Homo sapiens: one gene and its partner. The protein of the gene in region 2 purifies or fractionates together with the protein of the main gene of each other region. This does not show direct contact. Each region holds a gene or a part of one and is shown on either strand. Other genes may lie near its edges.

Region 1 (3,500 bases), on a different chromosome or scaffold from region 2:
CAAGAAAAAAAACAAACAAAAAAAAAAACAAGAAAAAGATGCCAAGAGTGAAAGTGGCATAGAATGGCAATGGCTTAGTTTGGGTGGGGTTCCAGGTAGAGGTTGAAAGGACCAAGGAACCCCCTACAAACCTGCAGTGCAGTGGCGCGATCTCGGCTCACTGCAACCTCCACCTCCCAGGTTAAAGCGATTCTCCTGCCTCAGCCTCCCAAGTAGCTGGGACTACAGGCGCCCGCCACCATGCCCAGCTAATTTTTGTATTTTTAGTAGAGACGGGGTTTCACCATGTTGGCCAGGCTGGTCTCAAACTCATGACTGCAAGTGATCCTCCTGCCGCGGCCTCCCAAAGTGCTGGGATTACAGGCGTGAGCCACCGCGCCCGGCCCCTACCTCAAGGTCTTTCATGTAATCCTATCCGCCAGGACCCCTTAGCCTTGTAAAGTCACACATTCACAGACTCCGGGGATCATCAGGTCGTGGATATCTTTGGGGGCACCAGTAGCCTACTGCCACAACACCCAGGCTCAGAGCCTGCGCAGAGCCTGCCCCCGGCTCCCCAGTGCCCTCAGGCCTGTGTTCACGCTCCTCTCGACTGCTCCGAGCCCGGGCGGACCTCGGCCACATCCGTCCTGCCCCGCCCTTCCCCCGTGAGCCCTGACACTCTTGCGTCAGCATTTTTAGAAATTGCTGGTGTGGGCCAGATGCGGTGGCTCACGCCTGTAATCCCAGCACTTTGGGAGGCCGAGGCGGGCAGATCACCTGAGGTCAGGAGTTCAAGACCAGCCTGGCCAACATGGCGAAACTCCGTCTCTACTAAAAAAGTACAAAAATTGGCCGGGCGCGGTGGCTCACGCCTGTAATCCCAGCACTTCGAGAGGCAGAGGCGGGCGGATCACGACGTCAGGAGATCGAGACCATCCTGTCTAACACAGTGAAACCCCGCCTCTACTAAAAATACAAAAAATTAGCCGGGCGTGGTGGCGGGCGCCTGTAGTCCCAGCTACTCGGGAGGCTGAGGCAGGAGAATGGCGTGAACCCGGGAGGCGGAGGTTGCAGTGAGCTAAGATCCCGACACTGCACTCCAGCCTGGACGACAAGAGCGAGACTGTCTTTAAAAAAAAAAAAAAAAAAAAAAGAAATTGCTGGAGTGCAGCCTTGGGACCTTTGCCCATTCTCCCGGCTCTCCCGTGACATTCTTTCTCTGGGCTCTTTGCCTAGTCCACGGAGCTTCCGTCTCCCCTGGAATGTCACCTCCTCAGGGTGTCACCGTCCCGGCTGTCCTGCGTGAAGGACCCTCCATTTTATTTGTGTCCTTGGTATTCCTTTGTTCATCCCTTGGTTGCCTGTTCTCTGTCTCTCTAGACTGGGTGCTCCAAGAGGTAGAACTCTGGTTTTTGTTGTCATTGTTGTTGTTTTTGAGACAGAGTCTTGCTCTGTCGCCAGGCTGGAGTGCAATGGCGTGATCTCGGCTCACTGCAACCTCCGCTGCCCGGCTTTAAGTGATTCTCCTGCCTCAGCCTCCCGAGTAGCTGAGATTACAGGCATGCACCACCACGCCCGGCTAATTTTTGTATTTGTAGTAGAGACGGGGTTTTGCTATGTTGTCCAGGCTGGTCTGGAACTTCTGACCTCAGGTGATCCGCCCGCCTTGGCCTCCCAAAGCGCTGGGGTTACAGGCATGAGCCACAGCGCCCAGCCCCCAGTTCCAGGAGTTTTTTTTTGTTGTTGTCATTTTGCATTTTTCTACATAGATGATGTCATCTATGAACAAAGAGTTTTATTTCTACCTTCTGTATCTATATGCCTCCTTTAAGGAGTTTCACTAGGAGATGCACACGTAACTCTTAAACCCACTGGCCTGCATGCTCTATACCTACATCTAATCTCTTCTTATAAGGACACCAGTCATATTGTCATATTGGATAAGGGCCCACCCTAATGACCTCATTTTTTTTTTTTTTTTTGAGTTGGAGTCTCGCTCTGTCGCCCAGGCTGGAGTGCAACGGTGCGATCTTCAGCTCACTGCAACCTCCACCTCCCGGGTTCAAGCAATTCTCCTGCCTCAGCTTCCCGAGTAGCTGGGACTACAGGCGTGCGCCATCACGCCCAGCTAAAATTTTTTGTATTTTTAATAGAGACGGGGTTTCACCGTGTTGGCCAGGCTGGTCTCTTGGCTAGGCTGGTCTCGAACTCCTGACCTCGTGATCTGCCCACTGTGGACTCGCAAAGTGCTGGGATTACAGGCGTGAGCCACCGTGCCCAGCCTTGACCTTATTTTAACATAATTATCTCTCTGAAAACCCTGTGGCCACAACAGTTGCTTTCAGAGGTACTAGGGAGTTAAGGCTTCAACACGTGAATTGTGTTTGGCAGGGCAGAAGCGAGAGGGAGAGAGACACAATTCATCCCATAACATGGGGAGACTGGGGCAATGGTCCAGATGAAAAAGAACAAAAGTCAATAGGGCACGGTGGCTCATGCCTGTAATCTCAGCACTTTGGGAGGCTGAGGTGGGAGGACTGCTTGAGCCCAGGAGTTCGAGACCAGCCTGGGCGACATAGTGAGACCCTATCTCTATTCAAAAAAAAAAGAAAAAGAAGAAAAGTCAAGAGGGTCAGGAGCAAGAGGGATACAACCTGGGGACTGATGGGCTGTGTTTGGAGACTGGGTTGCAGTGGGTATCCCCCTATGATTGGGACCCCAGAAGGGATTAGAACTGGTTGGTTAACTCCTTTCCTTGTGGTCTGCAGGCCATCTGGACCCGCTTCTTTCCTGCCTCCGAGGCTCTGAGGTCTGTTTTGGCCCAGGGAACTCTAGGAGACCTCCGGGTGGCTCGGGCAGAATTTGGGAAGAATCTCATCCACGTTCCCCGGGCCGTAGACCGGGCCCAGGCTGGGGGGGCCCTGCTGGACATCGGCATCTACTGTGTCCAGTTCACCTCCATGGTCTTTGGAGGGCAGAAGCCAGAGAAGATTTCTGTCGTGGGAAGGCGTCATGAAACAGGTACCATCTATCCTGGAATATTTCATGGTGATGGGAATGATTCTGTCTCTCTGGGAGCACTGAACTGAGGACAAGTCTCCAAGTCAATGAGAATTAGATCAGACACCTAGAGGAACAACTTTCCATGAAGCCAGAGAGGATCAGAGTCAAGACTGCAGGTGGGCACTCTCCTGGGACTTTGCTGTGTGATCTTAGCCAGCAGACTTAACATCTCTGAATCTTAATTACTTTACTGGTAAAGTGTCACTAATAGGGTTGTCATGGGAGTTAATGAAGTAACTGCTGAGGCAAATGGCAGTTAATAAATATAAAATTATTATTTTTTGAAGTTGTCTCAGTGAATCTTTGCTACAAAAAAGACTACCCCACTTGGCCAGGCGTGGTGGCTCACGCCTGTAATTCCAGCACTTTGGGAGGCCGAGGTGGCCAGATCACCTGAGGTCAGGAGTTGGAGACCACCCTGGCCAATATGATGAAACCCCATCTCTACTAAAAAT
Region 2 (3,500 bases):
CCTTTCCTTATATTTGTGCTTTTGTTTTGTTTTAATGGAGAGAAAAATCAACAGTAGAAACCACTTACAAGATTACTTACTACTGTAGTGTGGTATAAAGTAAAAGATTTTACAAAATTAAAAACATAGTGATGGGAAAATATGGTTAGAGTCAAACAGTCTGATTTTTTTTTAAGGTTGCTGGTTACAGATCAATGTCATGAACAAACAGTAATTTTTTTTGGAGGAGCATGCTTGGAGATGAAGTATAGCAGTATAGCAGACATCCGATCATTGTAATCTGTTTTCAGCCCCCTTATTTATATTCTCTTCTGCCACCTTCTCATTTTCCCTCCCCCTTGGAGTTGATACCAGGAAGGACCTAGAATCAGCAATTTTCACTGACAGTCTCTATTATCTAACCCACGAAATTTCATCTTTCTACAAATGGGCCCCTCTTCCTGGCTGCACTTTCCTCCCCGCACTAACTTAACTCTTCTTCCTCAGTTATTAATTTCTCGCTGTTACCAAGTGATGACTTGCTGGATGGCAAAAGTGAACTCTTGGATTTAGTTTCAGCTGGAAGAATAAACCTGTAATTGTAGCCTGGCCTTTTCCTGGTGCGCTTCCCTGGGGGCCTGGCCTCACATTGGAGACGCTAAGCTTCCAGAAGCCAGACAGGCAAATCCCAATGGTGACCGATGCTCTCAGTTCTGGATTCCAAACTGGGGGGCAGCTGGTCTCTGCTCACCTGCCCAGCCAGAGTCTGCCTCCTGTGCTTGGTCCCCAACCGACTCAGACCAGGCTTCCTCACTATGAGCTTCAGAGGTTTTTGTGGGTTTTTTTTTTTTTTAACATTCTATCAACTTTTAAGTTCTGGGGTACATGTGCAGGATGTGCAGGTTTGTTACATAGGTAAACATGTGCCATGGTGGTTTGCTGCATGGATCAACCCATCACCCAGGTATTAAGCCGGAGCTGTGGAGTTTATACAGGAAGCCCAATACAGAGAATGTAACCAAGACTCATGCTTAGGAGATGGCTGCCCTCTCTCATCTGTCATCACTGGGGAGTCAAATGTTTCAAATGAATCAATTTCACAATAATTGAAATTAGCCCTTGAGGGACGCAATTCTTCCTTTAAACAATTCAAAAAGAAGCAAAGTAAAGCTATGTATACCACATGCAGATAGATGTAAAAACGGAACCTGATGAACTAATTCTGTACTCAGAAATTACTGACGGCATTTTACTTGAGAGACATGCGTGTCAGCCATTTCTGCCACGGGGGTTCTTCTGATGCTGTGATAGGCTGTGATGAGGAAGCCATTCCAAGTTGGTGTAGCAGGAGTTTGTGTGTCTTCTGGCTGGGCAGCCGGGGACCTCCGTGCTGTCGGAATGTGTTTTGTATATTGTCTGTCATGTCTCTTCCTAGTTTTTTCCAAAAGCCCTCTCTTTTAATATGACATTAATAAGACAATTAGAACTTAGTGTAAACTAACAGTAAATAGTACATATGTTTCAGTGCATGGACTTCGTATGTTCTTCTTAGTCTGCTCATGATGTCTTTTGTCAAAAAAACTTTCATTCTCATCTGCATTCTGGATCATTGAGGTTCCCAGAAAAGTGATTTCTGCGGGTTATATAAACAGTTATTTGCGACATCTCTTAATGTAACCTGGAAAGTTTCTAACCCAGACATTTAACTTTGTACTTCAACGCTGGTTTATTATCAAGCTTCGGAGGTTTTTCTGGGTTTTTTTTTTTTTTTGACATTTTATCAACTTTTATTTTAAGTTCTAGGGTACATGTGCAGGATGTGCAGGTCTGTGACATAGGTAAACATGCGCCATGGTGGTTTGCTATGAAAATACACATTTTAAGGGGAATGTGCTGGGGAGGGACATGCTGATGTGCATTGGTGAAAACTGAAGGGCGATGGTGAGATCCTCCTCAAAGTGAGCTCCTTGGCAATCAATCTTGCTGAGTGTTGCCACTGAAAGGAGAAAGGGAGTGCTCGGTGCGTCCTTACCCTTCAGGGGCAGGCGGACTGCTTGGGACTTTTATGTATATAAACCTATTGACTCTTCCCCCAAAGTCTATTGGGGTATGAGATTCCATTCACAGCCTCTATTTAACCATTTAACTTAGCCATTCCTCTGTGAATCCATGTTATTGCTGAAGATAATAATAATAATTTAGAAAAAAATCTCTAAGTGACTATAGTTTTATTTGACCAAAACTTGAATTTCGAGTCTGTCCTAGTTGATCTGTTGGTCATGCAGTCCTGGGACTCTGTTCCCCTCCGGGTCTCATCTATAAGATGTCGAAGGGGAGAGGGAAGCAGCAGAGAGGAAGGTGGACAAGATGGATAAGACGTCACCTAAGGTCCTTAGCATGTTGAAATTATATGATTTTGATCTAAACCTAATTGGTTACACTTCCTTTCCTGGTTAGATATTTATCAACAATGAATGGCACGAATCCAAGAGTGGGAAAAAGTTTGCTACATGTAACCCTTCAACTCGGGAGCAAATATGTGAAGTGGAAGAAGGAGATAAGGTAAATACTTAAAATAAATTTGCTCTAAGTAATTCAATTATGGATGACCAAAGGATAAGGAAACGGTTCGGCTTAGCTATAAGACAGAACTGGCCTATCCTGGGGGCAGGGCCTGGGCTAGCTGCGTGAATTGGCATGTGGTTCTCAGACGTGTGGCACAGAATGGCATCAATTACCGATGATCCTCTGCAGAGAATCATTCTCCCTTGATAGATGTTTCTCCTACTATGAGGATGACCTCAGCTATCCTCATCATATGGCTAAAGGAAAGGTTTTCTTTTTTCTTTTTTTTTTTTTTTTATCAATTATTTGGACCTGGAGGCATTAAAGAATCTTTCCAGAAAGCATTTCCCGCTGGTGTGTTTCACGAAATGAAGCTTTCTGGCAGAAGACACTTTAGAAAAAAATAGACACTTTGAAGGAAAAAAAATAGTTGCTACCCGGGTGATGCGGGGATAGTTAACAATGTAACCACCAGATTTCTTTTCTCCTAGAAATTTACATGAGCATGGAAAGCGGTAACCTTTATCACTCTATTTGCAAGTGCAAGGTCTATATAGTAATACAGAAGCTAAGGGACTTCCGAATGTGTCCTTTATACATTGCAAGGCCATCAAATCTATTCTGAATGTCAGTGCAGAGGTAAAGCCCTTCCACTGAGGGCAGGGAGATGTAAATGTTTCCTTAGCTGCTGGAGTGCTGGACTGATGTTCTTGGTCAGCAAACTGATGACGTTGGAAGTGGATGCAGTGAAGGGCGTGTGCAGAGTAGGCTTGGATTTTATCTTGCCCATGAGTTTTTGTGACAGACGTGCAAATGCACACTGGCCCCACCTATACAGACCCCCCTCTGTGTGGCACCTCATGACAGTTAGGCTCTGCTAACAAAGAAAGTGGCACAGAGGAGCTCATAGAAAAATGTGAGGGCATTGGGGGGAAGCCATGACATGGAATGGGGTT

The links. Proteins that work in one complex are often made in the same cells at the same time.
Region 1: the proteins of ALDH1A3 (region 2) and DHDH purify together in Homo sapiens (co-immunoprecipitation; one large-scale study listed by IntAct). This does not show direct contact.

What each region holds. Positions count from the first base shown.
Region 1 is NC_000019.10:48,936,699-48,940,198, forward strand, and holds part of DHDH (trans-1,2-dihydrobenzene-1,2-diol dehydrogenase), read left to right. Parts: intron 1-2,750; coding exon 2,751-3,003; intron 3,004-3,500.
Region 2 is NC_000015.10:100,882,831-100,886,330, forward strand, and holds part of ALDH1A3 (retinaldehyde dehydrogenase 3), read left to right. Parts: intron 1-2,436; coding exon 2,437-2,541; intron 2,542-3,500. UniProt on the Homo sapiens protein: Catalyzes the NAD-dependent oxidation of aldehyde substrates, such as all-trans-retinal and all-trans-13,14-dihydroretinal, to their corresponding carboxylic acids, all-trans-retinoate and all-trans-13,14-dihydroretinoate, respectively.